Homo sapiens: one gene and its partners. The main gene of each other region encodes a partner of the protein of the gene in region 3 in a complex. Each region holds a gene or a part of one and is shown on either strand. Other genes may lie near its edges. A codon is read from its position in the direction of its gene.

Region 1 (7,101 bases), on a different chromosome or scaffold from region 3:
CAGGAGCTCCTCTCCCTCCTCAGTGGCTCCATCCGTCACCTGTAGAGCTTCAGCCCAGCTCCACAGCCTAGACCATTCATCCCCAAGCCAGTATCAGTCTGAATCAGCACCATTCTGTTGATGTACCTCCTTTTAAAAGCCGTCTCTCTCTCTTTTTTTCTTCTTTTTTTTTTTGAGACAGAGTCTCACTCTGTCACCCAGGCAGGAGTGCAGTGGTGCGATGTCGGCTCACTGCAACCTCTGCTTCCCAGGTTCAAGCGATTCTCATGCCTCAGCCTCCCGAGTAGCTGGGATTACAGGCGTGCACCACCACGCCCAGCTAATTTTTTTATTTTTAGTAGACATGGAGTTTCACCATGTTGGCAAGGCTGGTCTTGAACTCCCGACCTCAGGCGATCCACATGCCTCGGCCTCCCCAAGTGCTGGGATTCCAGGCATGATTCCACCGTGCCCGGCCTAAAAACCATCTCTTCTTTTACTCTGCTATTTCCTAGCCAGCTAACCCTGAGCAGGTTCCTTAGTGGGCCTGTGCCTCCGTTGGATCGTCTGTACAATGGGGATGAGGATAGGGAAGGAAATGGGTTGACACTAGTGAAGAGCAAGAACATACCTCCAAGCCCTTGGCACCTCTGCCAGCTGTTATTGTTGCCATAGTCATTATCACCATGTCATGATTCACCTCCCTGGCTGCTCCCAGGCCTCCCTCAGGGCGGGGTGGGGAGGAACAAGAACACAAAGACAGGGAGAGCCAGGGTTTGATGCAGAAAGAGCTGGTGTCCCCCACTAGCTCCGAGAGCTTCCTGGGAGGCAGGAAATTCGCCTCTCCTTTTTGGAGGTGTGGAAGTGGGGGCAGAGAGAGGCCACCTGTCCCGGATCGCTCTGCTGGACTCAATCTGGGGCCAGCATTTGACCCCCGCTCACCCTGTTTGCTATGAATGTCAGTTCCCCTCGCTACTGCTGGCTCCCTTCCCCCTCAATGCTCCGTTTCCTGTTCCCTCCAAGGCCCCGTTACACAATTTCCACTGTCTGCTGAAGTTCTAGCTCAAATCCCTCTCGCCGAGACTTTCTGGTCACCAGATTCCAGCAGAACTCAACAGAGACCTCTACCCGCCTGAGCTCCTGACCAGGTTAGAGGGCATCTGGCTCCCAGGCACTGGGTCAAGCTCCAGAGGCATCTCCTGTGTCTGCCCGCGACCCATGGCCCCGCTCAGGGCCTGCCTTCCATCTCCTGGGTCTTCCCCAGTGCAGGTGGGAGCTCTGCTCCCCTGGTAACTGCGAGCCTCTCAACACCACCTTCCTCCTCAGTGTCATCCCCCTCCTGTCTGCCCCCTCTCCCCCAGTGCAGGGGCCATAAAGCCTTCCCCGGAGTCCCACTGCCAGGTCCCACTGCCGGGCCTCCAGGCTTTGCTGCTCCACCTGGGCTCAAGCCTGGCCATACTTTGTTCTAATGACTCTGTCCCCCTGTGGTACACTCTCTACCACAGCCACCCTGGGCTCCCCATACCCACCCCAGGACCTTTCCTCGGGGCTTATCTTAGCTCTGATAAGATCCACCCCTCAGGGCCCACAATCTCAACAGTGTCCTAACCTCGGTAAGAGTCTCTAGCAAGAGGTGCAGCCTGCAAGATGATCTTCGCATTCCTGCGCTCACTTCCTTGAAGATGGGCACCATGGCTTTGGAGTTTGAGACCAGCCTGGCCGACAGGGTGAAACCCCGTCTCTACTAAAAATACAAAAAATTAGCCGGGCGTAGTGGCGGGCGCCTGTAGTCCCAGCTACTTGGGAGGCTGAGGCAGGAGAATGGCGTGAACCCAGGAGGCGGAGCTTGCAGTGAGCCGAGATCCCGCCACTGCACTCCAGCCTGGGCGACAGAGCGAGACTCCGTCTCAAAAAAAAAAAAAAAAAAAAATACAAAAATTAGCTGGGCATGGCAGCACACACCTGTAATCCCAGCTACTCGGGAGGCTGAGGCAGGAGAATTGCTTGAACCCGGGAGGCGGAGGTTGCAGTGAGCCAAGATCGCACCACTGCATTCCAGCCTGGGCGACAGAGCAAAACTCCGTCTCAGAAAACTAAATAATTCCTTGACACACTTGCCATAGTATTTCTGTGTACGGTAGGCACCCAAATTCTATTGTAAAACAAAATATAAAAACACTTAAGTGAATAAATTCTGTAAGAAGCAGGTATCTAAGACATAGACACCAGGCCCTTCCTAACTGGTGAGGTCTGGAGTTCCCTCAGGCCATGTGTGGTCCAGCTGTGATCAGAGTTTGAGATCAAAGAGCAGCTGCCGTCTACCAAGGACGTCTTCCCCATGGAAGACAACCACAGAACCTCCCAGGTCTTTGGAGCCATCCCTGAGACCAGCTAGGAGGCCAAAGGACACTGATGGCATCCTTTCCCCAGAGCTGGTTACAGGTCTGCCTCGGACTCCCCTCGTGGTGGTAGTGTCTGAGCGGATCCTGGCTGCCCAGGGCGGCCGAGTGCAGAATGAGGGTGGAAGAGGAGAGAAAGGCAAGATCGTTACCATCGCTCAGCTCCGAGACTAGGCAGATACTCACAAGAAACAGAAGACTCGAAACCTATAAAAAGACTCCTTTTAAATGGCAGTGACTTGACGTTTGGAGGGCCACAGGCACCTTTGAGAAGTTGGCGGCTGCCACTGTCCACAAAAAAAACACGTACGCGTGCACACACAAACACACACACACACACACACACACACACACACACAACTTCACTTACAGTTTCCGGGCTTGTGACCACCCCCAAACCCGCCAGGCCTATCTCTGGCTGGGTGTTCACACACTCTGGGTTAGGACCCCTCTTTTATAAAGACTGTTCCTCAATTTGCTTCTTAGCGTAAACACACTCTCAACCTGACTTGCTGGGGCTCCGGAAGCTTTCCCTGGGCTCCAGTCTGACCTGGCTGACTGGGGAGTAGCTCAGCCCTCAGTTGTAAGGTGGGAATCATCGGGGCGGGGTCTCTGTGCCCTTCCCTCTGCCGCTGCACAGCCACGTCCCAGCAAATGCACGAGGGCACCAGGGCGTCAGGGCACAGGCTGCAGGGGTCCAGGCAGGTGGGCCCTGGGAGGTCCTGGGGACACCAGCTTCATCCTGCCTGCCACTCTGAGACATCCATGCTCCTGACCATCTCTCCATTGGGAAGTCTGGGTCTGCCCGCCTTCCCTCCTCCCAGCAATCTCAGGGCAGCTCATCTGCCTGCTTACTCCACCCCCCGACACTGAGGTGGTCAGCCTCCACACTTTCTGTTCAGACCCACGGGCAACAAAAACAAAACCTTGGCCAAGCACTCACAATATCAGATATTCATTAAAAAAGTATATATAGGCCGGGCACCGTGGCTCACATCTGTAATCCCAGCACTTTGGGAGGCCAAGGTGGGCAGATCACTTGAGCTCAGGAGTTCGAGACCAGCCTGGGCAACATGGCGAAACCCCATCTCTACAAAAAATTAAAAAAATTAGCTGGGCGTGGTGGCTGCTTGGGAGACTGAGGTGGGAGAATCGCTTGGGCCAGGAAATTGAAGCTGCAGTGATCTGTGATTGCACCACTGCACTCCAGCCTGGGTGACACAGCAAGACTCCGTCTCAAAAAAAAAAAAAAAAATTATATTTGGAGTACAACTCTGAATCCATATGCTAACTATTCATAACATTCTTAGCACCGAGGCTGTACTGGGCACCCCTCCGGAGACGACTGGTCTATGCCAACTTTGGCGGGCGGCAGCAGCACCTGGAGAGTCCTGAAACTCCAGTGCCACCCCCAGGCCCGCTCCAGCACGCGGAGTTAGGCGGCTGCCTTCTACCAGGCTCCCTGGGCAACGCCCGCTGTCATTCCACAGCCAGAACATCTTTGGTGGCTGCGTGGGTCCCGGGATGGAATGCAGATGTCACATGACAAGCCAGAGCCGTGACATTTGGCCCCAATCTCCTTGTGGGTCCCCCTGAATCCCCAGGCTCCTCTTTGGCCTACTCTGTACCCAGAACTCTCACCTTTCCTGGGGCAGTTGGTCCCTTGGCTTAGAACACCTGTGCACACCCCACCCTGCTGCCGCTAAATGACCAGGGGTTACGGTCCCCAGTGCCGTCCTCCAGATGCGGCTTCTTCACCCTCCCTTACCTTGATTTCTTCACTCTGCCCTCCCCTCTTGAAAAAGACCATCTGCTGGGTGCGGTGGCTCAAGCCTGTAATCTCAACACTTTGGGAGGCCGAGGTGGGCGGATCACGAGGTCAGGAGATCGAGACCATCCCGGCTAACACGGTGAAACCCCGTCTCTAATAAAAATTCAAAAAAATTAGCCGGGCATGGTGGCGGGCACCTGTAGTCCCAGCTACTCGGGAGGCTGAGGCAGGAGAATGGCGTGAACCCGGGAGGCGGAGCTTGCAGTGAGCCAAGATAGCGCCACTGCACTCCAGCCTGGAGACAGAGTGAGACTCCATCTCGAAAAAAAAGAAAAAGAAAAGAAGACCATCCTAGCCATGCAGCCACTTGCCCTCCGTCCCTGGTTTGTGAGCCTGTGCGTGCACCGGGGGACAGAGAGAGTGTCCAGGGCATGCACCCCTCCTGCCCCTGCCACTGCCACGTCTGCCTGTCTTTGCTTCCTTCTTATCTCCTCCTCCCTGCTGTTGCATCCCTCCTCGCAGCTGCCTGGGAAGCCTCGGGCAGACCTCTTTGTTGTTTCCGAACCCAAGACGTTCACCCCTACACACGACCCCCACTGCATCGAGTCAGTGGTTCTGCATCAGGACTGGAGACGGCTGCCCGCGCCTCTCAGTCTCCCAGGAGTCATCTATGCCCTGTTCTCCATGTGCTCAGATGTCGCCACAGAGTCTGAACCTCTCAGCCCACACCAGTGGCATCTACCTAGCAACCTGGCTGCGACAGCAGGGAGGAGGGAGGCAGTACCCAAGCCCACCTGCAGCTCACAAACGACAGGCCAGGACTGCGTACGTGGCTCTGCACCCCCAGAAGGGTGCAAATAGGGGAGGCCCGAGAGGCTCTGAGGCTGGCACTGTCCTCAGATCCCAGATAGGGAGAAACGTGTGTTGTCCAGAGAGCTCCTTCCAGCACCTGCCATACCTCCAGGCTGTGCACAGCTCTCCCTGCTCTTCCAGTCCCCCTGCCTTGGGAGCTGCCAGTAATTCAGGGGTCAGTGACTCCCCTGACAGATCCTGTCCCTCCAAGGACGCTGTTCAAAACCAAGCCGAAGAGCCTCAGTTCTCCCCACAGCTCCCTCCTCAACCTACCATGGGGCCTTCTATCCTCACATCTTGCAAATGCATTTCACATTGTCACATGATTACTCCTGAATTTTGGTTATTTCGAAAGTTTATCTGTTGTTAATTATTTACCGAAACCACACTGAGTGGACTGACTTTATACCACACCTGGGCAGTTGAGGAGGGGAGGCCTGCTCACCACGCCGGGCAGCAGGAACCCCCTTCCACACCGCCTGGTGCCAAGATGTACCACCCCCTGCATCCCCCACCACAGGGACAATGTCTTGCTTCTCCCTTACATCCCCGGGGGCAGAGGCAGCCACTCCATAATTGCTTGTTGAAACACAGACAAGCCCAATATGAAAATCAAGATGAACAAAACTGACAATACAGATCGATCACATACTTCGCACAACGAGTTGCCAACAGTTTCTTTAAAAAGCGCCACGCCGCCCCCTCGCATGGAAGGCCTGACCCAGCTCACATGAATCTGATGCTGTGTTGCTTTTCCTGAGCACGTGTCCTGAAGACAGAGCCATTTTTGACTGCGTGCTGTGTGTTTTCTGGGGTGGCCCCTACTATCTGTCTGGTCCCTGTCACTGTGTCCCCCAGGAACCAGGTCACCCTTGGCTGTTCACCCCAGAAAATAGCAGTTGTTCCCCCTCTTGGTTGTGGACCCCTCTCTAGCTGGAGCTGGAGCTCCTCGGGGGATTTGCAGAGGACAGTTTCTGGAGGTGGGAACATGTGAGGAAGATGTCATCGCAGAGGTCTTCTAGGATAATGTGTGGCCTTAGGTACTGCCACCCAAGCCAGAGGAGAGGTTTTATTCTCTGCATCCAGAGAGCTCCTGGCTTTACCCTTGAGTCCAGAAACGGGCCCAAGCAGCCCGAGTCTGCCAAGTAGCTCAGCTGGCTAAGTGGCTCCAGGCATGGGACTGCCTGAATGGTGAGCCCAAAGCTAATTTCCAGCCAGATCCCTGTAGCTGTGCAGGCTGGCAGTAGATGTGAAGGATTTCACTGGGTGAGAGGGAGCCGGGCCAGCAGCGCATTTGAACAGTACTGTAACTGAGACACAAAATGCTTCCCGTTTGTGCTGGCCTTGCTGGAAAGGACAAGGACCTGGGGCCTTCCAGGAAGAAATCAGGTCACCTCTTACCATCCCTTATCCTAAACATCACCACCTCATCATGAATTATCTTTGCCGACCACAGTTCCGGTCCTACCAACTGCAAGAGCTGCTAGGGAGATACCTCCCAGAAATCCTCAGCCGGGCAGACAGAAATCTGACTGTTTCTTAAGCCAATTGCCTCTTGTAGACACCAAGCCATTTAACAAGGCTGCATGCAGCCAAGAGTAAAAGGAGCCAGCTTGCCACATAACAAGCCAGCCTTTATTAACCTCCACTGTACCCCCTTTCTGAGACCCCTGGGTCACAGCCCTGGTTAAATCACCTGTGGGCCTTTTAAAACTGCAAAAGCCGAAGTCTGAGCAAGACCCTCTGTATCTGCAAAGGGACCTAGACCTGAGCAATCTTTAAGAATCTTCCAGGCAATTCTGCTCTGAGCCAGAATGGGGAACCATTGCTGAGAAAGTCACAAACCTGCATCGCTTCGAGGAGAATCGAACACTGGAGAATAGACAGGCCGCTGTCGTCCCTGTGGGATTTGTTCCGGGACCCTACCCTGGGATGTCCTGGGTTGTTTATCCCAAGTTGGTTGAGCACGGAAAGGGTGACTGGGAATAAGAGAAGGCAGCCTGGTGTATGGGCTGAATTACGTCCCCCCTCAAATGCACATCTAGTCAGATCCTATGAATATGACCTTATTTGGAAATAGAGTATTTGTTGATCTATCAA
Region 2 (7,146 bases), on a different chromosome or scaffold from region 3:
TTTCCAGTGGGACCATTCCCATCAGAGCCTCGCCCCCTCGTGGTTGCTAGGCCGCGCCCCAGGGACTGGTTGGTGTGGCACAGGGCGCGGGGACGGTGCCTCACCAGCAATGAGAAACTCCTCGCTGCGGTTGTGGGACCTGTGGAAGTATCCGCAGACACTCTCCATGGCGGGGGTGTAGACGAACCGGATGTCAGCGGCATCCCCTAAGGCTTGGAACCCTTTATACATCTGTTGATGGATGAGGGGAAGTGTCTCTTTTACTGACATAATCCTCCCACTCCAGGTTCTTCCCTGAAGTCATATAGCATCCCAAGATCACAGCCAACTTTCTCGCACCAACCAGTGGCCAGAAGTTTCTGTTTTGACCAGGAGGAAGATGTTAGAAAATGCTGGGAAAGAGGCGGGGGCAGGGGATACCTTGGTCATCTTGATCTCATAACGCTGGTATAAGGTGGTCTGGTTGACTTCTGGTGTCCCCACGAACTTGGCCCTGATGACTGCAGGAGAGGAGGGAAATATGAGTCAAATGGACTGCATGAGCCAATAAAAATAAGATCATCATCATCATCATCATCATACCAGCAAAGCGCATACATAAATAGGGGTTATTGGATGCCAGACAGCACACAAAGTGATTTACACATTTGTTCATTGATTCATCTGTATGTTGAGTGTCTCTCTTTGCCGGGCACTGCTTAAGCCATTTTCATACATTGATTTGTTCATTTACTCCTCAAATATTTGGGAGTGCCCACTGTGTGCCAGACATTGTTCTGGGTGTTAGGGACACAACAGTGAACAAAACACAGAAATCCCTTTCCTTGTGGAGTTCACATTCTAGCCAGGAGGAGACAGGCTAAGAACAAACAAAATAAGGATATGGAATGTTAGACATTAAGTATAATGGGGAATTACAGACCTGGGTAAGGGGCTGACAAAGATTCTTTGCTTGACCAAACTTTACTCAGGCTCCTGAACCTCCTCCTAGGCCCATCTGTGCACTTCCTTGTAAAATCCAGTTTTAGCCGAGAGCCTTGCTAAGTCAGTTTAGCAAGAACCCCTATATTCTATATCTGATCATCCTCAATCTCTGATCATCCTCAATACCTGATCATCCTCAATCTCTGATCATCCTCAATACCTGATCATCCTCAATCTCTGATCATCCTCAATACCTGATCATCCTCAATCTCTGATCATCCTCAATCTCTGATCATCCTCAATACCTGATCATCCTTGCTATCTGACTGGGTTCTTCATCTTCCACCATCCCCCAGGTGATGTCTGATTCCCCTTGGCCTGCCTTCAGCAAGAATCCTGTTACGTCGGTTTAGCCAGAATCCCCCTTACCCCTGATGTTTCTTCTTAGTAATTTCCACCCACAGACCCTCACACTGCTCCTTAGCTACACATTCCCACTGGCCCATGCTATATTCAGTGTTGAGCCCAATCTCTCCCACCGACTGCAAGATCCCATTGCAGTGGTTCCTATACCCATCACCATGGTCCTGAATATGGTCTTCCTTACTGTGTTATAACAAGTATCACTGAATATTTTTCTGTTTAACAGGAGATCAGGAGTACTAAGGGGCAGGGGTTAAAATTTTAAACAGGATGGCCAGGGAAGGCCATCCTGAGAAGGTGACGTTTGAGGCAGCCACCCATGTGGATACCTGGGGGGAAAGTGTACCAGGCAGAGGGAGCAGCCAGCATGCAGATCCTGTGGTGGGCTTGGGCACAGAGTACTCAAGGAAGTGTGAGGATGCCAGTGTGGCTAAAGCAGAGGAAGTGCAGGGGCGAGTGGAATCATTCTAGAGGTAAGTGCCATGGTGAGCCCCACTGGACTGAAAGGGAAACCAAGGCAGAGTGTGTGGGCTGAGTGGGGTGAGGACTCACCGAGGTCGGAATTGCAGAAGGCCGTCTGTGGGTGGGGTGGGACACAGGTGCAGGCCCTGCTGGGGGCTATCAGCCACAGCAACAACAGGATGCCAGAAGCCAGGGGCTCAAAGGGGGCCATGGTGGGTTCTGTGGGGAAGGGGGATGTCAGGCAGGCCCCGGCCCAGCTGATCTGCTGACCTGGGCAGGTCATCCACCCCATCTTGCCCCGGGGCAGCCTATGGGGGGGATTAGGGGGCTGGATTTGGGCTTGAGGGGTTGGTAAGCTTAGGGATTTTAAGGGGATTGGGGAGCGCAGAGGAATTTAGGGTTTAGAGAGTTGGGAGAGTTTAAATTATTGAGGGACTGAGTGAGTTGCGGGGTTATGGGGTTGTGGCACTTGGGGGAGAAGGGGGCTGAGGAAGTTTGAGGAATGAGGGGATTGGGGAATTCTGGAGGTTGAGGAGTTTGGGGGTGAGGAATTTGGGATTGGGGGCTGGAGGAGTTTGGAGACGGCAGAGTTTAGGGGTTGTGTATATTAAGAGATATAAGAGGCTGGGGGAATTTAGGGAGGTTGAGGAATTTGGAGGAGGTTGGGGGTTTAGGGAGCTGGGGGAGTTTGGAGGTTGAAGGGGTTGGGGGAATTTGGGGGCTTAAGGCAATGGGGATACTTGAGGAATTTGAGGGCAAAAGAAGTTTGGGAGCTGGGGAACTGGGGATTGGGGAGCTGGGGGAGTTTAGGGAGCTGCAGGGGTTAGCGGTGGGTATTTAGGGGGCGATGAGGGAAATTTCGGGATGAAGGAATTTGCGGGGGGATTTGGAAAGCATTTGTGATATTAGGGGGTCATGGGTTTGGGGGAATTGGGGGCGGATGTCAGGGGTTCTAGGGAGTTTGGAGCCTCGGGGTTGGGAAAGCAGTTCCAGCCTCCGACCCTCTTCCCCCTAGACTAGCCCAGGGTCCTGGTACCCGCAGGCCAAGCTGAGTAGACAGGCATCTGGCACGGGAGTGCACGGGCCTGGTGGCCAGCACCCAAGCTGCAGCCCAGCTCCGGTCCCTGCTGGGCCACCCCGGGCCCTGCTTACCTCTGGTGTCTCTCTGGGCGCTGGATCTGCGGCGATGGCGGCAGGGCCTGAGCGCTAGAGGATAAATGTCCACGCTAGGGGCGGGGGTGGCAGCGGGTGCGGAAACCACAGGCCTCCAGGCTTCCTGGATGCATTACTCATCCACCCACCATCAGTGCAGAAGCCAAGGGGCGGGCCGACGAAAGGAGATACACCCTCCTCCTCTCCCACCCGCCTCCTCTCCCTCTCCCTGGGCCTCGCCCGGGCCAGCCACCTCCCCCACCTCCACGTCAGTCACTATTCCTTCCAAGCCGCCTCAGCGGAGAGCTTAGAGGCCGCATTTCCCCCGGCCCAGTCCCCTAAAGTCTCCAGAATCTATCCAATCACCCACATCCCCCAAGCTCCCTATGACTCAAACCCAAATTAGTTCAGCCCTTCAACATTTATTGTGCATCTACTGTGTGCCAAGCACACAAAAATCCCTTGTTTTGTATGTCTGACATGCTGGTGAGGGGTGGCAGAGAGGAAACAAATTAAGTAGCAGCAGTGGAGGGAGATAAGGCAGGTGAAAGGGGAGGAATACAAAATGGGGAAACTGAGGCACGGAGTGGTTAAGTGACTTACCCAGGATCACAGAGTCAATACATGGCAGAACTGAGACTGGAACTCAGGTGGCCAGGAGCCAAAGCCAGGGTCTCAAATAACACAGGCAAATAGCCGGCATTTATACAGCACCTACTGTATACCAGGCACTCAGCATAGTTTATCTCACTCAAAGCTCACAACAAATCTCTGAGATGGGTACCGGTTCTTATTCCCGTTTTACGGATGAGGAAATATGGGGCGTAGAGGAACTGTAGAATTTTCCTAAGATCACAGGGCATGGCCGGGATTCAAACAGAGGCTACCTGGCACCAGGGTTGTAACTCAGGAGTGGCACCGTCCTAGCAAGCAGGGAATGGTGCGGGTGAATGAATGAGCATTGGGAAGGGGGTGGCCATGAATGATGGTGAAAGAAGCAAGTGAGTGGGTCAGTAGAAAACTAATCCCCACCCCATCCTGCCCTGCCCCCTCCCCATGGACCTGTACCCCTGGTGGGGGGTGGGGTGGGGCAATCCTTGCCCACCAGCTTTCTGACAATGCAGGAACCTTCCCTGGGGTTCTGATTAACATCCTTAATTCGAGGAGGATAGATCAATAATAATAATTGTAGTGATGATGGCAGCCACTTATTGAGCACTTTCTGTGTACTATGTGCTAAAGTGTTTGTATAAATTATCTCATTCACTCACCATACTCCCTTGCTAATTAAGTTTGATTAACTCAGGGATGATAGCCCAATAACAAGAACACAACAAAAACTACCAGCAGCCCTTATGGAGTGCTTACTGCGTATCCAGCACTATTCTGGGTGGGAGGAATGTGAGGGATGAGAAATTGCCTAATGGGTACAATGTACACTATTTGGTTGATGGGGACACTAAAAGCCCAGACTTCACCACTATGTAATATATCCATGTCACAAAACTGCAGCTGTACCCTCTAAATCTATTTTTTTTTTTTGACAAGAGTCTTGCTCTGTCACCTAGGCTGGAGTGCAGTGGCGCGATCTCAGCTCACTGCAACCTCCGCCTCCGGGGTTCAAGAGATTCTCCTGTCTCAGCCTCCTGAGTAGCTGGGATTACAGCCACACCACCACCACCCCCAGCTAATTTTTGTAGTTTTAGTAGAGACGGGGGTTTCACCATATTGGTCAGATCTCGAACTCCTGACTTCAGGTGATCCACCTGCCTCGACCTCCCAAAGTGTTGGGATTACAGGCGTGAGCCACCACACCCGGCCTTCTAAATCTTTTTTTTTTTTTTAGACAGAGTTTCGATCTTGTTTCCCAGGCTGGAGTGCAATGGCAAGATCTTGGCTCACTGCAACCTCCACCTCCTGGGTTCAAGCAATTCTCCTGCCTCAGCCTCCTCAGTAGCTGGGGTTACAGGCACACGCCACCACGCCTGGCTAATTTTTGTATTTTTAGTAGAGACGGGGTTTCACCATGTTGGCCAGGCTGGTCTCAAACTCCTGACCTCGGGTGATCCGCCCACCTCAGCCTCCCAAAGTGCTGCGATTACATGCGTGAGCTACGGCACCCAGCCTAAATCTATTTTTTAAGAAAGCACTTGGCCGGGCATGGTGGCTCACACCTGTAATCCCAGCACTTTGGGAGGCTGAGGCAGGCAGATCGCTTGAGCTCAGGAGTTCAAGACCAGTCTGGGCAACATGGTGAAACCCTGTCTCTATTTAAAAAAAAAAAAAAAAGCACTGTTCTAAAGTCTTTTTACAGACATTATCTCATTTAATCAATCCCGATTGCCTCTTTGTTCATTAATGTTAGTTAAGGAAGAGATGTTAAGCCAATAATAAGAGTACCCAACACTTCTTGAGGATCGAGGCTTACTGTATGCCCGATACCATGTAGAGCATTTTTCCCAAAATAACTAACTTATTTCTCACAATATCCCTGTGAGTTAGATATAGCTCATGTTCTCATTATACAGATGAGGAAACTTAGACACAAAAGGGCTGAGTGACCTACCCAGGAATGAGAATGAAGAAATGGCTCTGCTGCGGGGTGGTGGGGGGAGGGTGGGGGGGCGACAAAAACAGGGAGGAAGGGAAGTAAACCAAAAAAATCTGTAGGAGCTGATTATGAAAGTGGGACAGTGAGAGTGAATGAGACGGGGCTGAGTAACCTGGTGCCTCCGAGGGAGAAGTGAGGGCAGGGGAAGTCCTGCCTTGGCCCCTCGCTGACTCTGGTTCTGACGCCAACTCTTTGAAACCTGAGTCAGCACAGAGTGTTGCCGACTGTTTACATGAGGAGTCGTGTGGATCCGGTTATTGTGCAGTTTTGAAATGGAGAGTGGGAGGGGTGTTCATGGAGGGGTGTGTGACCATCTGGGGAGCTGGATGGGTGTGGGGGCCCATGGGGGTCCAGGAGGCATGTGCAAAGCGGACACCTGACAATGCCCACAGCATACCAGGTGCTTGGGCCTCATTGTGCTCTTTGTGCAGATGGGGAAACTGAGGCTCAGGGAGAGGTTGTGTCCTTCATGGCCTTAGGAAGAAGAAAGGCCAAAATTCAGACCTAGGGCTTTCCAGGAGCTCCCAGAGTCAGAGTTCAAAGCACTCTGCATGCACACATGTATGGGCACACACACATATACAGAGCGTTGTGTTCAGGCTCAAGTCCAGAGAAAACAAGGACAGTTAACGAAAAGAGGCACCTAGAAACCTCAGGGTTGTTGGGGGAGGTATGGGTGTGTACGCACAGCTCTCTGGTGTGTTGTGTGTCCATTGCTAAGAGTCGAGCATGTGCCTGTGTGTTTTGTGTGTTACTTCTGGGAGTTGTCTACCAGCCTCGGCAAAGCGGATCTGGGTTGCATATGTAACTGAGTGCATTATGCACTTCTGTGTGCTGTGCGCACACCTGGGTGGTACTGTATGCATCCGCCTCGGCATCGTTTCCCTGGCCCGCTGCCCAGAGATGCCCCAAACCCCCGTCCCAACATCGTGCCTCTCAGCCCACCTCATAATGACGCCAGTCATTTGGGAAATGAGGAAGGGGGGGTGTGCAGAGGGAGGCCTTAAGGTCAATCGGTCACCCTGAGTCTGCGGGCTTCCTGTGCCTGTCGGGAACTGGGAACCACCACCGCCCCAGCAGCCCCTCCGGGAATGCCATCTCTCTACCTTGTCAGCGAGAGGGAGGGCCACCAGAGGGGCACTGTGCAGCTGTGCTGTGGGGGTGGGGGTGGAGGGAGCGGGGAGCCTAGGGCCGTCCAACCTGGTTTCCTCTACCCCATCCAGGAGCGGGGGAGACTTGAGGTATCCCTCTCGCCTGAATGTGTGACTGTATGTGTGTTGGGGTGGGAGTGCCCAGGAATGTTTTCTGCAAACTGAGTTGTGGGTGTCTCTGGTTGTGTGTAGCCTCTCTGTATTGTATATGTGGCAAGGCATGTTGTGTGTGTGTCTAGATATACTTTTTGTATGCCCAGGAATGTGGCGTGGGTCTCTTACGGGTCCCAGTGGTGATGTGAATACCTAGAAGTGCATACACCTCTGTGTGTTGTGTAGGGCCTTATTTGCTGTGCATTTGCCTAGGGGTGTTTTATGTGTGCCTGTGTGTTGAGTATGTGCCCGGTTCTGTGGAGTGTGCCT
Region 3 (8,035 bases):
TCAAAAATCTTCCCAGTAATAGGTGCCATTGGATGTGTACAATCTTTAGTTTAAAACAGAAACATGCCCAATAACAGTTTTCTGCAGCACAAACACAGCTAGATTCAGCTTTTTAAAAATATTATAAAAAGGGTTTTATTGAATTTAGTAGTAGATATTATTTAACCAAGGCTCCAAGAATTGTGCAGAAAAGAACAGTTGTTCAAATAAAAGGCAATCATTTCATGCAACACAAACTTCAGTCTCGTGAGACAGAGTCTCACTCTGTTGCCCAGGCTGGAGTACAGTGGTACAATCTCGGCTCACTGCAGCCTCCATCTCCTGGGTTCAGTGATTCTCGTGCCTCAGCCTCCTGAGTCTTGTACTCAGGAAAGATGTTCTTTGCATTTACATTAAAAATCCCAGGCACTGTCAGAAATAGTGATTATTTCAACAGTGTGTTTCTAAACTTCAGAAGCCATTTTAAAAATTAAATAGCATACAGTTAATTTTAGTCATTATGTTTAGATGTAAAGTGTTTCCAAGCCAATTTAGGGCGAAAAAAACCCATCTAAGCTAGAGACAGTGACATGTTTATTCGAAAAGATGACCTAACAGTTTTTTTTCAGTTCCTGGCATTTTCTCCTGATCTCTACTTTTAAGTAAAAAGGAGGCCAATGAGAAGAAAGAAAGAAAACCTGAGGGCAAATGTTAGGATTGGAACTGGTTTAATGGAATTCATTCTATCCTAATCATCTATCATTAAAGTGATGAAAAACATTATTAATTATGCTGATCCTCAAACCCCCACAAGATCCTGAGTTGTGGAGATGAGGTTGAATGGTTTTTACAATATTGTACTTGGTGGGGGCAAACATGAAAATACAGACATTTTATAAAATTCTTCAATAATGATTGAAACAAACAGTACTTCTGTTTAAAACTCAGGTAATAAAAAAATTCAGTTACTAGTATATTCGATTTATTGCTCGTTCTAGATAATCCAATTATTTTTGGGTAGGATTGGACATTATTCCTGAAATGTTCCCGAGAGGTTTACGACCCACCTGATGCATCTTCTGTCCATTTTTCATCATCATCAAAGTGAATATCTCCATAAAGCCCAGGTCCAGGTGGGTAGGCATGAGCCAAACTGTGTCCTGGGCCATCAAAAGAGTAAAAGTCTCCATGTTCTGATAGGGAACAAATTAATGGAAATATAAGTGTTCAGAATTTCTTTTTACCCTGTTCCAATTAAACAACAGTAGATTCTATAGTCTGAATGTTGGTGTCTGCTGCAAATTCATATGTTGAAACTCAATGCCCAATGAAATATAGTATTAAGAGGTTAGGTCTTTAGGAAGTGATTATGTCGTAAGTGCTCTGCCCTCATGAATGAGATTAGTGCTTTTATGAAAGAAGCTTGAGGGAACCTCCTGGCCCTTTCTATCGTGTGAGGACACAGAAGGTACCATCTATGAGGAATAGGCTCTCATCAGACACTAAATCTGCTGGCACCTTAATCTTGGACTTCCCAGCCTCCAGAATTGTGAGCAATAAATTTCTGTTGTTTATAAATTACCCAGTCTAAGGTAACTTGCTATAGCAGTCTGAACAGATGAATACACCAGATAAATGGATGCTTTATTTGATTACCTTTAACTGCAAAAGAGATCATTATATCAGCCTCTCCTTCATACAGCCTGGAGAATGTGAGTGGAGTCACCTCTTCCCAGACTTTCAGAGCTTTCTCAATGGCAGAATCAACAGCATCTCTTGGCAAATCTGGTGTATAATTCACAATCCTGGAGGAGAAAAATTGAAGAGGATGTTATTTTCTCCTGCCTTTATGAAAAATTGTTAAAGAAAACTTTATGTTACTTATCCAAATATGACGAGTAACTTATAAGGTTTCAATATTATGTGAAAACTAATCTGAACCATTACCTGTATGTAAGGTGGGTTTTCCTCCACTTCGGCATGCCAGGAAAGGAGCTGAAGTGACCAACGTCAGGAACTCCACACCTGGGCTTGCGCATCACCTCCAGAGTGTCAGTGTCTAGCTTCCCTGTCACCTCCAACCCAAGGAACTTCTGCATTCCTTGGATTTTTTTAACAATGAGATTACTGTCCTTTCTTCTAAACTGTTTCACATCCTTTTCGAGGTTGTAGTACTTTTCTAGGTATTGCTAATGGAAAATAGAATTTTTAGGGCATTTTTGTGATTTTCCATCATTTATCCAACTTTTATAATCCATCGTAATTTTCCTCTAGTTTCTTAAAACAAAAGAGGCTATCACATTTAATTTGATTTTTCATTAAGACTCCCCATTTCATACAAATTTTTAAATTTTATTGCAATGTTAGTTTGCTAGTCAAGTAAGGAATTGGGGATTGAAAATTCAAGTCTAGCATTATTTTTGTTAGTTTTTAAAGAAACCCTCTTTTAACATAGTTTTGTGAAAAGTTAGAATACTAACCTTTTCTACTTACATTGTTATTATAGACCTGGTTTAAGACTGAAGTGTGGTAAACTCTTTTGTCCAAATATGACAAGTAAAAATATGAAAACTATTACCTGATATGATTTAAAGATCAAACTTAGCATGCTCCCCTCCCCAATAATTTTAACTAAATAAATTCTAAAGCCAGAGGAGTTTCATATATTCTCCATATGTTCTTTTCACTTAGCCACAAATATACTGCTACTATTTTATTGTAACCTTGAGCAGTTATATTCCCTTTCTGAACCTTTCTTTTCTTCTCTGTTAACATAAAAATAATTTCCACCTCCAGCCTGTTAATTATTCTCTGATGCTACAGTTTTCTAACAAAGTGATCTCTAGTCTAATCATTCTGCTTTGTATTGGAAGACCAAGTAGACACAATTGAGCTGGCCAGTAGCTGCAATAGATGCCACCGTTAATTACCTGGGCAAGATCCTTGTTGGAGTCCTCCTCTTTTGCTGCCCCACTCAGAGGATAGGCAGAGCAGACTGGCAGACACAACAGCACAAGGAATGCAAGATGCATCATTCTCACTGCCCTTACCTTCTTTGTCTACTGGGCTTCTAGCTCTACCCCCTAGTGGCCTTTCTTTTATACAGAGACAATGCTGAGATCACCAACAGTATGATTCATGCATGTGTTTTTTAAGTCTGAATGTTCACAAACATTTAATGTAATGGTGATACAGCCTACATCAGTATTTTCCTTCAACTTTCTAAACTTGAAAGAATGATTAATCCCCAGGAAATGATTTCTGTGTTTGTAAAGACGAAAAAGAATTGGCTAGATAATTCACGTCTCTGTATTTACTTAAAGAGAGCTGACAAGCTTGGTAAAATGCCAAATGTTTTGACATTTTAAAATCAGTGCAATTTTCTTTTAAGAAGATTATGTTTTAAACTTAAATATAAGCAGGTAAGAATTAAGTAGGTCAACGGAAATAAATTCCAAATATAGTCGTGGTCTAAATGTGGGAGTTGTTATTTACAAAGATATTAAAACAAATATTTCACTTCTTGAGTCCTTGTTTACAATAGCTATTATTGATTTTCAGATGGATTTACTGGCCGTGGAGTAGGGGTATTGTGAGAAGGACATGGAGCATGTAGAGAAAAGAATCCAAAGAGAGAAGCTTTGGTGTTCACTCATTCTCCATTTCCCAGTGTATAATTATGTTCAAAGTAACTGCTCCATAAAACTTGTTAAATGGAAAAAATTAAATTGCATGTTAGACTGAAATGGTCCTCCTACCCTCTTCCTCTTCTTTGCTTTTAAAAATTCTTTTCCCCCTTTCTTTCTCCTCTTAAGGTACAAAGGAGGAGATGGATTGAGATCTGTAATGGGAAATGATTTCAAATCCTCCCTTTCTTTCACATGTCTAACGATCCACCCCTGCCCACAAATAGTATTTTCTTTCTTGTTTTCTCAGCCAAATAAAGTGCTTTTTACGCAGTAACACAGTAAGTCTGCAATAACTGTTTTGTCAAATTAACCTGTTAATATAAAGAACCCTGAAATTCTTATAGTAAAGAACTATATTTTTCTCTCACTAAAGATAAATTAACTCTACCATGTCTGAAGTACATAATTGCAAAGTGATGAGAGATTAAAATAATAAGTGTGTAGGAATGATCTTTTCAGTATCGCCCACCATCCCCACCCTACTTAAGGTAGCCTGGACAGGTGAGACTTCCAGGAACCAAGAGGCTCTGAGACTTCCAAGCCAGAGTTGGAGAGAAACTGGGATATACACTGAGCCAGCCAAGTCAACTTGTGACTTACTGTTGCCAAAGAGTTTGCTCTACAGTGTGGTGACATCAGCTTGAATATCAGAGGGAGAAGGACTGACAACTAGACTCAAATAAAGTCAGCTGGACATTGAGCAAGTACAGTCAGGCACTGTATAATGTTTCAGTCAACAATGGACCACATATATGATGGTGGTCCCATATGATTATAATGGAGCTTGATATGGTTTGGATCTGTGTCCCTGCCCAAATCTCATGTCGAACTGTCATTCCCAGTGTTGGAGGTGAAGCCTGGTGGGAGGTGATTGGATCACGGGGGCGGATTTCTCATGCCCATTTAGCACCATCCCATCGGTGATGTTCTTGTCATAGTGAGTGAGTGAGTTATCATGAGATCTGGATGTTTAAAAGTGTGTAGCACCTAGCCCCTCTCTTTCTTCTCCTGCTCTGGCCATGTAAAGTGCAGGCTCCTCTTTTGCCTTCCGCCATGATTGTAAGTTTCCTGAGGCCTCCCCAGAAGAAGGTGCCACCATGGTTCTCATATAGCCTGCAGAACCGTGAACCAATTAAATCTCTTTTCTTTATAAGTTACCCAGTCTCAGGTATTTTTGATAGCAATGCAAGAACAAACTAATACAGAGCTGATAAGCACCCATCAGCTATTGTCATTGTAGCCAACATAATGTCATAGTACAATACATTACCCATGTGTTTGTGATGATGCTGGTGTAAGCAAACCTACTGTGCTGCCATACGAAAGTCTAGCACATGCAATTGTGTACAGTACATAATTCTTGATAATAGTGATAAATGACTGTTTATGCATTTACTATACATTTTATCATTTATTTTAGAGTGTACCTTTTTTTTAAAAGTTAACTGTAAAACTGCTTCAGGCAGGTCCTTCAGAAGGCATTCCATGGTTACTGCCCTATGCAGGCATTATTATCATAGGAAACGACAGCTGCATCAGCGTTACTGCCCTGAAAGACCTTCTAGTGGAACTTGATGTGAAGGTAGAAAACAGTGATATTGATGATCCTGATCCTGTGTAGGCCTGGGCTAATTCGTGTTTTGTGTCTTCATTCTCAAAAAATAGTTTAAAAAATAAAAAAAATTAAAGATAGTAGAAAGCTTATAGGATAAGGATATCAAGAAAAAAATATTTTTGTACCTCTGTGAAACGTTTGTGTTTAACCTAAGTGTTATTACAAAAGAGTCAAAAAAAGTTTTAAATTAAAAAGTTTATAAAGTAAAAAAGTTACTACAGTAAGCTAAGGTTAATTTATATTGATGAAAGAAAAATGCTTTTATAAATTTAGTGTAGTCTAGGCATACAATGTTCATAAAGTCTACATAGTGTACAGATTCACTCACCACTCACTCACTGACTCACTTAGAGCAACTTCCAGTCTGGCAAGCTTCATTCCTGGTTAGTGCCCTATATAGTTGTACCATTTTTTATCTTTAATACCATCTTTTTATTGTATTTTTTAATGTTAAAATATGTGTAGATACAGTAATATTTATTATTATGTTACAATTGCCTCCAGTATTCAGTAGAATTTCATGCTGTATAGGTTTGTAGCCTAGGAGTAATAGGCTTGCTGGGCATGGTGGCTGACACCTCTACTCTCAGCTACTTGGAAGGCTGAGATGGGAGGATAACTTTCCCCAAGAAATTTTTAAAAGGCTATACCACATAGTCTAGGCATGTAGTAGGCTGTACCATAGAGGTTTGTGTAAGTTTAATCCATGGTGTTTGCACAATGGATAAATTGCCTAAGGACATGTTTCTTAGAATGTGTCCCCATTGTTAAGTCACACATGACTGTGTGTAATTAATTCAGGCCATTATTTTGTCATCTGTAAAATGGGGTGGATATAACCACACTCACAAAGTTATTTTGTATGCTTTATGCTGGGGAACAAATCTCTTCTTATTTCACTCCAACACCTTTAACAGACAAAGCTTGTTGGCCTGACAAATCTGTGACAATGCCCCTAGGCCCTGATTTGACAAGCTGTGAGATGCCCATTTTCGCTTGAGTCATAACTTTATTAGTGTTGACACATCCTGTTAATGGATTTTATTATGTGGTAATGATACAATGAAAGTTTACATTGTAGTAATAGCTACGACTATAATTGGGAGCCTATAGGGTAGCACATGCCTCACAGAAATGATGTTAGTGTTTAAACTTGTCCTGCATTAAACCATGACACCTGGTAGAAATTAATGCCCTGGAGCAGGTGAGTCCTATGTTTGTCTTTATATAATTCATTACTTGTTAAACCTACTGAAGTATGTATAGGGTCAGGCAAGGAAGCATACAGAGCTCATACTTAAAGAAAGGTGAAACGCCTGGTATTGAGCTTCCACTGTAGTCAGTTCTTAAATGTGAGTTATTTTTAAACTTCAGAACAACCCAACAAAGTTGAGATTAGAAAAATTGAATAATAAGCTCACGATCAAAAGCTAACAAGTGGGAAGAGATTATTCAGAACTGCCAGAAGAAACCTTCATGACTACAACTTGGATGTTTATCAAAAACTTCTTGGCTTCATTCCATATCTTTGCTATTGTGAATAGTGCTGCGATTAACATACAAGTACAGGTATCTTTTTGACATAATGATTTCTTTTCCTTTGGGTGGATATCCAGTAGTGGGATTGCTGGGTTGAATGGTAGTTCTATTTTTTTGGTCTTTGAGAAATCCTCATACTGTTTGGAATACTATGCAGCCATAAAAAGAATGACGTAATGTCTTTAGCAGTAACATGGATGGAAGTGGAGGTCATTACGTTATGTGAAATAACTTAGAAACAGAAAGTCAAATACTGCATGTTCTGATTTACAAGTGGGAGCTAAATAATGTGTACACATGGATATACTGTGTGGAATAATAGACACTGGGCACTCAAGAGGGTGGGAGGGAAAAGAGGGATGAGAAATTATCTAATGGGGGCACAATGTCTTCTGTTCCAGTGAGAGTTACACTAAAAGCTCAGACTTCAACACTATGCAATATATCCATGTGACAAAACTGCACTTGTACCCCCCAAATATATTTAAAATAATAGTAATAACAAAAGTTTTAAAACAACCTCTTGGCTTGGACCTTGGTTCTTCCCCAGCTTTTTTTCTTTTATGTCTTGACACTGTTCTTTATCTCTCATTCTTTTTTTTTTTTTTTTTTTGAGACAGAGTCTCACTCTGTCTCCCAGGCTGGAGCGCAGTGGCGCAATTTCAGCTCACTGCCAGCTCTGCCTCCTGGGTTCACACCATTCTCCTGCCTCAGCCTCCCGAGTAGCTGGGACTACAGGCGCCCGCCACCACGCCCAGCTAATTTTCTGTATTTTTAGTAGAGACAGGGTTTCACCGTGTTAGCCAGGATGGTCTCGATCTCCTGATCTCATGATCCGCCCGCCTCGGCCTCCCAAAGTGCTGGGATTACAGGCATGAGCCACCGCGCCTGGCCTATCTCTCATTCTTGAACTCACCCCTGAACATGCCTTCAATTTATCTCCTTAGCTTTTGTTCTTTTCTCCCAACTCTCTGATCATCCTGCTAACACAGCTACTTCATTTGATCTATGTTTATCTGTTCTGTCACTTGAAGTTCCTCTTGGCCTGTGCTGCACTGATGTGATCCAGACAGAATGCAGGTCTACAATCCATTGCAATTTCAGTAACTAAGACTGAGAAATGCCTAACGGTTTCTCACTTCCAGTTTATTCAATTCTTGGGAAAACTGGTTAGCTATTAATTTTCAATACCCAAAGACCTCTGATTTTAAGG

What was found.
Region 1: the proteins of MMP10 (region 3) and TIMP2 are in contact, whole or in part, in a crystal structure (PDB 4ILW), measured with the Homo sapiens proteins. Residues at the interface, in NP_002416.1 of Homo sapiens: Glu155 (codon at 1,669), Asp169 (codon at 1,164), Phe170 (codon at 1,161), Tyr171 (codon at 1,158), Ser172 (codon at 1,155), Pro176 (codon at 1,143), Gly177 (codon at 1,140), His178 (codon at 1,137), Ser179 (codon at 1,134), Leu180 (codon at 1,131), Ala181 (codon at 1,128), His182 (codon at 1,125), Ala183 (codon at 1,122), Tyr184 (codon at 1,119), Pro185 (codon at 1,116), Pro188 (codon at 1,107), Gly189 (codon at 1,104), Leu190 (codon at 1,101), Tyr191 (codon at 1,098), Val214, His217, Glu218, His221, His227, Pro237, Leu238, Tyr239, Phe242; in NP_003246.1 of Homo sapiens: Cys27, Ser28, Cys29, Ser30, Pro31, Val32, Gln36, Ala37, Asn40, Ser57, Gly58, Asn59, Asp60, Tyr62, Asn64, Pro65, Ile66, Lys67, Arg68, Thr91, Ala92, Pro93, Ser94, Ser95, Ala96, Val97, Cys98, His123, Leu126, Cys127.
Region 2: the proteins of MMP10 (region 3) and TIMP1 are in contact, whole or in part, in a crystal structure (PDB 3V96), measured with the Homo sapiens proteins. Residues at the interface, in NP_002416.1 of Homo sapiens: Phe170 (codon at 1,161), Tyr171 (codon at 1,158), Gly177 (codon at 1,140), His178 (codon at 1,137), Ser179 (codon at 1,134), Leu180 (codon at 1,131), Ala181 (codon at 1,128), His182 (codon at 1,125), Ala183 (codon at 1,122), Tyr184 (codon at 1,119), Pro185 (codon at 1,116), Tyr191 (codon at 1,098), Asp205 (codon at 1,056), Ala206 (codon at 1,053), Ser207 (codon at 1,050), Gly208, Val214, His217, Glu218, His221, Phe226, His227, Thr231, Tyr236, Pro237, Leu238, Tyr239, Asn240, Phe242, Thr243; in NP_003245.1 of Homo sapiens: Cys24 (codon at 1,951), Thr25 (codon at 1,948), Cys26 (codon at 1,945), Val27 (codon at 1,942), Pro28 (codon at 1,939), Asn37 (codon at 1,912), Leu57 (codon at 453), Tyr58 (codon at 450), Pro87 (codon at 174), Met89 (codon at 168), Glu90 (codon at 165), Ser91 (codon at 162), Val92 (codon at 159), Cys93 (codon at 156), Arg98 (codon at 141), Thr121, Cys122, Cys155, Leu156, Ser157, Ile158, Gln173, Leu174, Gly177, Ser178, Glu179, Lys180.

What each region holds. Positions count from the first base shown.
Region 1 is NC_000017.11:78,915,364-78,922,464, forward strand, and holds part of TIMP2 (metalloproteinase inhibitor 2 precursor), read right to left. Parts: intron 1-7,101. UniProt on the Homo sapiens protein: Complexes with metalloproteinases (such as collagenases) and irreversibly inactivates them by binding to their catalytic zinc cofactor. Known to act on MMP-1, MMP-2, MMP-3, MMP-7, MMP-8, MMP-9, MMP-10, MMP-13, MMP-14, MMP-15, MMP-16 and MMP-19.
Region 2 is NC_000023.11:47,578,290-47,585,435, reverse strand, and holds the start of TIMP1 (metalloproteinase inhibitor 1 precursor), read right to left. Parts: upstream 3,001-7,146; 5' UTR 2,962-3,000; intron 2,029-2,961; 5' UTR 2,021-2,028; coding exon 1,900-2,020; intron 501-1,899; coding exon 421-500; intron 232-420; coding exon 105-231; intron 1-104. UniProt on the Homo sapiens protein: Metalloproteinase inhibitor that functions by forming one to one complexes with target metalloproteinases, such as collagenases, and irreversibly inactivates them by binding to their catalytic zinc cofactor.
Region 3 is NC_000011.10:102,777,578-102,785,612, forward strand, and holds the start of MMP10 (stromelysin-2 preproprotein), read right to left. Parts: upstream 3,052-8,035; 5' UTR 3,015-3,051; coding exon 2,910-3,014; intron 2,169-2,909; coding exon 1,927-2,168; intron 1,785-1,926; coding exon 1,636-1,784; intron 1,173-1,635; coding exon 1,047-1,172; intron 1-1,046. UniProt on the Homo sapiens protein: Can degrade fibronectin, gelatins of type I, III, IV, and V; weakly collagens III, IV, and V. Activates procollagenase.